Linked DNA regions of Homo sapiens: region 1 is linked to region 2. Evidence: fine-mapped expression QTL. A gene starts in region 2. The other region holds a variant in brackets. All regions are shown on one strand. Distances are between the middles of the regions.

Region 1 (2,925 bases), 93 kb before region 2:
TAATGTTCAGCTGCTAGTGATGGAAGTGTATCTCTAGAAAGGTTTATTCTCTCAAGTTAAAAAAAAAAGTTGAGGCCTGGTGCAGTGGCTCACGCCTGTAATCCCACCCCTTTGGGAGCCCAAGGCAGGTGGATTGAGATCAGGAGTTCGAGACCAGCCTGGCCAACATGGTGAAACCCCATCTCTACTAAAAATACAAAAATTAGCTGGGTGTGTTGGTGGGTGCCTGTAATCCCAGCTACTCAGGAGGCTGAGGCAGGGAATTGCTTGAACCCAGCAGGTGGAGGTTGCAGTGAGCCAAGATCACACCACTGCACTCCAGCCTGGGCAACAAAGTGAGACTCCGTCTCAAAAAAATAAATAAAATCAATCAATCAATCAATCAATCAATCAATCCAAGGCTGGGATGAAGGCTCCACAAAGTCACCAGGGACCTGGTTTCCTTCTGTCTTCCTGCTCTGTCGTACTGAGGAGGGAGGCTTCATCCTCAGCATCACTGCATGGTCTAATGTGGCTGCTGGAGCTCCAGCTATCAAATCCACATTCCAATCAACAGAAGAGGGCGAGGGAGGGAGGAAGAGCAAAAGCGAATGCCCCAGTCTGTCCCTCTTTGGAGAAGCGCTCTCATATATCCTCCCCTGAAAGTTCTGTTTATATTGTGGTGACCAGAATATATGTGTAGCCACACCTGGAAGCAAAAGAGGTAAAGAAATGTAGGCTTTTAGCTGGGCACATTGTTGCTTTGCGTATCTGTTACTAAAGGAGGGAAAAAGTATTTGGGAAGCAACCAGTAGTCTTTGTCACTCAACTTAAATATCTTTAGGAGAATGGATAAATAAATTACAGTGTATTTGTGCGATGGAGCACTATATAGTAGTTAAAATGAAGGAAATAGAGCTACGTGAATCCACATGGATAATTCTCAGAACAAAATCTCTTGCCCGAAAAAGCGAGTTGCTGAGTTCCAACTCTACGATGCCATTCATATAAAGTTTAAAAGCCTGCAAAACAACACAATGTATCTTTGATGGCTACATAAAATATATATGTTGGGAAGGTATAAAAACATAAATGAAAATGAAAAATACTAAACGCAAGATGATGGTTACCTCTGGAGAGGGAGAGCAAACAGTGTGATCAGAAACAGAGACATCCAGGCTTTCGATTACTACCTGTGATGTTGTATTTCTTTAAAAGACAAGAAAAAATTTGGAGGAAACAGCAAAATGTTAAGGCTTGTAAAAGTCGAATTGTGAGTACGCAGCATTTAACCCACCATTCCCTATATGTTTCTGTATGTTCCACATTTGTCATTGTATATGAGCTAGATAAAGAAGGAGATCAAGATCATCTAGAGGCATAACTTAATGAGATGTAACCCAC[A/G]TATGGCGAATTCCCACCTCTCAAGGATACAGCATGATGAATCTTTACAGAGTGAATTCCTCCAGAGAAGGGTATAGAATCTAGCATCCCAGAAATTTCCTCTCAGTGGCAGCCCCAGCAAAGAAAAAACACTATTGTGATATCTACCACCATTGATTGTATGGTTTTTTTGTTTTGTTTTGAGACAGTCTTGCTCTGTCTTGCCCAGGCTGCAGTGCAGTGGTGCAATCACAGCTCACTGCAGCTTTGAACTCCTGGGCTCAAGTGACCCTCCGGCCTCAGCCTCCCAGGTAGCTGGGTCTACAGGCGTGTGCCGTGACACCTAGCTAATCTCTTTTATTTTTTTGCAGAGATGGGGTCTCACTATTGTGAAACCCAAAAGTCTGAGACAGGTCTCAGTCCATTTAGGAAGTTTGTTTTGCCAAAGTTAAGGATGCGAGCCCATGACACGGCCTCAGGAGGTCCTGGTAACATGTGCCCAAGGTGGTCAGACCACAGCTTGGTTTTATACATTTTAGGGAGATGTGAGACATCAATCAACAAATGTAGGATGAACATTGGTTCAGTCCAGAAAAGGCCAGATGACTCAAAGTAGGGAGGGGGCTTCCAGGTACAATTGGTTGTATTCTACTGAGTTTCAGATGAGCCTCTCCAAAGGAGGCATTCAGATACGCATTCATCTCAGTGAACAGAGGAATGACATTGAGTCGAATGGGAGGCAGGTTTGCCCTAAGCAGTTCCCAGCTTGACTTTTTCCTTTAGCTTAGTGATTTGGGGGCCCCAAGATTTATTTTCCTTTCACGTTGTGTTTCCCAGACTTGTCTGGATCTCCTGACCTTAAACCTCCCTCCCTTCTTAACCTCCTAAAGTGCTGGGATTACAGGCATGAGCCAGCATGCATGGCCTGCGTTTTGTCTTTTGCAAGAAGGAATTGTCAGACGTGTGTGAATGAAAGCAACTCCATCTTAAATAGGAGCTGGGTAAAATGAGGCTGAGACCAACTGGGCTGCATTCCTAGATGGTTAAGGCATTCTAAGTCACAGGATGAGATAGGAGGTCAGCACAAAATATGGGCCATAAATACCTTGCTGATAAAGCAGCTTGCAGTGACGGAGCCGGCCAAAACCCACCAAAACCAAAGTGGCCACGAGAGTGACCTCTGGCCGTCCTCACTGCTACACTCCCACCAGCACCGGGACAGTTTACAAATGCCATGGCAACGTCAGGATGCTGCCCTGTATGGTCTAAAAGGGGGAGGCATGAATAATCCACCCCTTGTTTAGAATATCATCCAGAAATAACCATAAAAATGGGCAACCAGCAGCCCTCGGGGCTGCTCCGTCTATGGAGCAGCCGTTCTTTATTCCTTTACTTTCTTAATAAACTTGCTTTCACTTTGCACTACGGACTAGCCCTGAATTCTTTCTTGCGCGAGATCCGAGAACCCTCTCTTGGGGTCTGGATCTGGACCCCTTTCCTGTAACATATTTACGGCGATCACAAAGGGATTAAAGTGCAGAAACCCTACAGAATCACGCCAAA
Region 2 (2,925 bases):
CTGATAGTATGTCATTTTGCTTTTTATAATTGATTGTCTTTAACTTTGCCCTGAGGCATTTTTCCTAATCAACTCTAGACCATGATAGAGCCTTTGGGCCACAAGACTAACAGTCTTACCTTGAACCACCAGTCAGTGAGGTGTTTGGGAAAACCTTTTCCTGGTGATGTCTCATCTTTTCCTTCTACAGTCACCAATGTCATATTTACTGTGTTAAGATGCTAGGCTTTGTACTGGCTTGTTTACTTCTCACGATTTATCTTGCAGTATGATAGTTTGTGTGACACTGAAAAAAATTAGTAGGACTGTTAAAATAGTTTTTTCCCCCCATTAAAAGTAGAATGACACCGTTTTGCTTCTGAAGAATTTGGCTTTAACTGGTTTATATTTTGAGCTGGGTATTAAAGGAGAATTATGGTAGGGTAAACACAATTAGTGACATCTGGTTGCCCCAAGAATCAATAATATCTGATACTACATACATAAATAGATATCTATGTTGTGATAATATATCTTAGTTTCACTGGGTAAAACTAGAAGAATAAAAAATTTGAAAACAGCTTGGTTACTGACTAAGCTGCAGCAGTTCTGAGAGCCTACTGTTGTCATTTTTAATGGGCAGCCTTGTACTTCCATAGATTGGTTAATCTTAAAGGCCAGATGGTAGTTGTATTGTAATTTCATAAAGATTTTATGTCCTATGTTTTGCTTTCAACTAGAAGCATGAGAATTTAGGAAAGTTATATTGAGACATATAAATAATAAAAATTGGTGAATCATTTTACCTAACAATTTATTGATATTACTCAACACAAGGAGAAAAATTAGAAAATGGACCTTAACACCACTGTCTACTATGAAGACAGTATAGAGGAGGCAGGAAAAACAGAAAGCACACAATAACATGATAGCTATAAATTCAAGTGTCAGTAATTACAATAAATGTAAATAGACTAGAGGATTCTGCTAAAAGACACGTCAGATTGGATTAAAAACATCTGAGATACTAGGTTTACAAGAAGCATATCTAAAAACAAAGATACAGAAGGCAAAATAATGGAAAATTTTATTTCAGGCTCACTTTAAGCAAAATAAAGCTGGTATAACATGTTGATATCAGACAACATAGAAATCAAGGCAAAAGGCATTAGAGATGAAGAGGATCACTGCACAGTGGTAAAAGGTTCAGTTCAGATATAGGTACATATTATATAAAGCAAAAATATACAGAAACAAGAAAAATAGCTGAATGCACAATCCTAGTGGGAAGTTAACATACCTTTCTGAATAGTACAACTTGCAGACAGAAATCTTAGGATATGGAAGACTTAAAGAACATGATCAATGAACAAATCTGACCTCATGGACATTCATAGAATGTTACAGTTCCTGTATAATCCATTCTTTTCAAGCACATGGAGCATCTGACATTGATTACATATAGGAATATAAAGCAAGTATTGATAAATTTCAAATGATTGAAATCATGTAGAGTATTTTTCTTACGGAATTATAGAAGGAATCAACCAAAAGATAACAGGAAAATCCTTGTATGTCAATAAATTAAGAAGTATATTTCTTATAATGTATAATATATAATTTTATAAATATATAAATATATATTTATAAAAGTTTCATTTAAAAAGTTTTACAAAATGGAAAAATCTGTCACTTAAATACAAAATCACTGTACTTCTGACCCTACTAAATGTAAAAATTGTCAGGATTTGGGAGGTTTTTTTTTTGATGTCCAAATACTTGATACACGTTCCAGAGATCCCCAATATTTTTGTGAATTCTTCTTAGGAGGCTAGTGATCATGTATGTGGGATTAGGAAAGTAATTGTTTGAGCTAAATGGGGGAAGAGATCATTCCTGCTGGTAGCAGGGAGGGTGTGCCACGACGAGAGATCTGTGGATTTACTGAAAACACGAGATTTACATCCAGAGCTTAGTTCACAGGCTGTGGCTCCTGTTTTTATTCATTTAGAGGCTGATAGACCAGCTGTGCCTGTAGTTACGTGTTCTTTGGCCAGACACCTAAGGAAATTTGAGGCTCAGACAAGCTGAAGTAGATATTTCTGTTTCCATGTTGAATAACAGAGCCACTCATGGGCTGTCACAGATACACTGTTTGGGGTTTTACCATTCCTTCCCATTTCCATTCCTGAAGGAAAAAGAGAAGAGATTTTTCTTTTTTTTTCAGATTATTACTGTGTTGGTGACCTAGGGAAACCCTTTTTTTTTCTCTTCTCTTTTCACAAAGTTCTGAGGAGCATGAAAAAATTGAGGTATTCACAGTGTCTGGGGAGGAAATGAGTTCTGTCCTGTATTTTCCGAAGAGTGGGAATCTAAATCGGAACAGGCACCAGGTTGAAGAAATAATTTGTCACATCATGGATGCAGGAACAAGCTCTACATGGGAATACTTTGTTGTAGTTAGGGTCTGTCTTGAGGGAAAACAAGACATAAAGGGTATGTGAAATGTTTTCTGGTGATCATATCCCACCGTGTCATTAGTTCTTTTAAAGTACTTTTTCTATATTATCCCAATTTAGCTTTTTTTGCACCCTGCAGCAATTCTATTTCTATTTTGTTTCCTGTTATCATTGTTCCCTTTTCTGAGTAGAGGATAGATAGGTAAGTGGTGTAAGTAATGGCATGGAAAGATCCAAGAACCATTAAGTAGATTATATCCCTTTTTACTATCCTTTTCTTAAAGTGCTTGACTTAATTCTGAATAGCCACTTACAAACTTTGATGAGTATCTTTCATCTTGGGGGTTATTTTGAAAATTGATGGCATTTGGAATAAAAGTTGCTATAACCTTAGTGTACGTTTGGGTTTATAAAATATACTGAACATAGGAACTCACATGACTCCCAATTTTTGAAGTAACCATAATTTCTAAAAAAAATTCAAATG

Alleles and levels. Alleles are on the strand shown, and positions count from the first base shown. SD is a standard deviation of normalised expression in the study named.
In carriers of allele G in region 1, the expression in tibial nerve of the gene that starts at base 1,557 in region 2 tends to be lower than with A alone (small effect, 0.33 SD a copy in GTEx).

Evidence for each region. PIP is the estimated chance that this variant, and not a neighbour inherited with it, causes the effect. A credible set is the group of variants that fine-mapping cannot tell apart.
Region 1: its variant is the best candidate, but not a certain one, in a credible set for the expression of SDK1-AS1 in tibial nerve (GTEx, PIP 0.53).

Annotation. Positions count from the first base shown.
Region 1 is chr7:3,257,517-3,260,441 of GRCh38, forward strand. The region is part of intron 2 of SDK1-AS1 (SDK1 antisense RNA 1); the gene reads right to left. Among named protein-coding and RNA genes, the nearest start is that of SDK1, 42 kb to the right of the region's middle. The variant A/G (reference allele first, on the strand shown) is at 1,384.
Region 2 is chr7:3,350,529-3,353,453 of GRCh38, forward strand. SDK1-AS1 (SDK1 antisense RNA 1) reads right to left here and starts at 1,557. Exons shown (of 3, transcript XR_001744897.3): 1 at 1-1,557. The region is part of intron 1 of SDK1 (sidekick cell adhesion molecule 1); the gene reads left to right.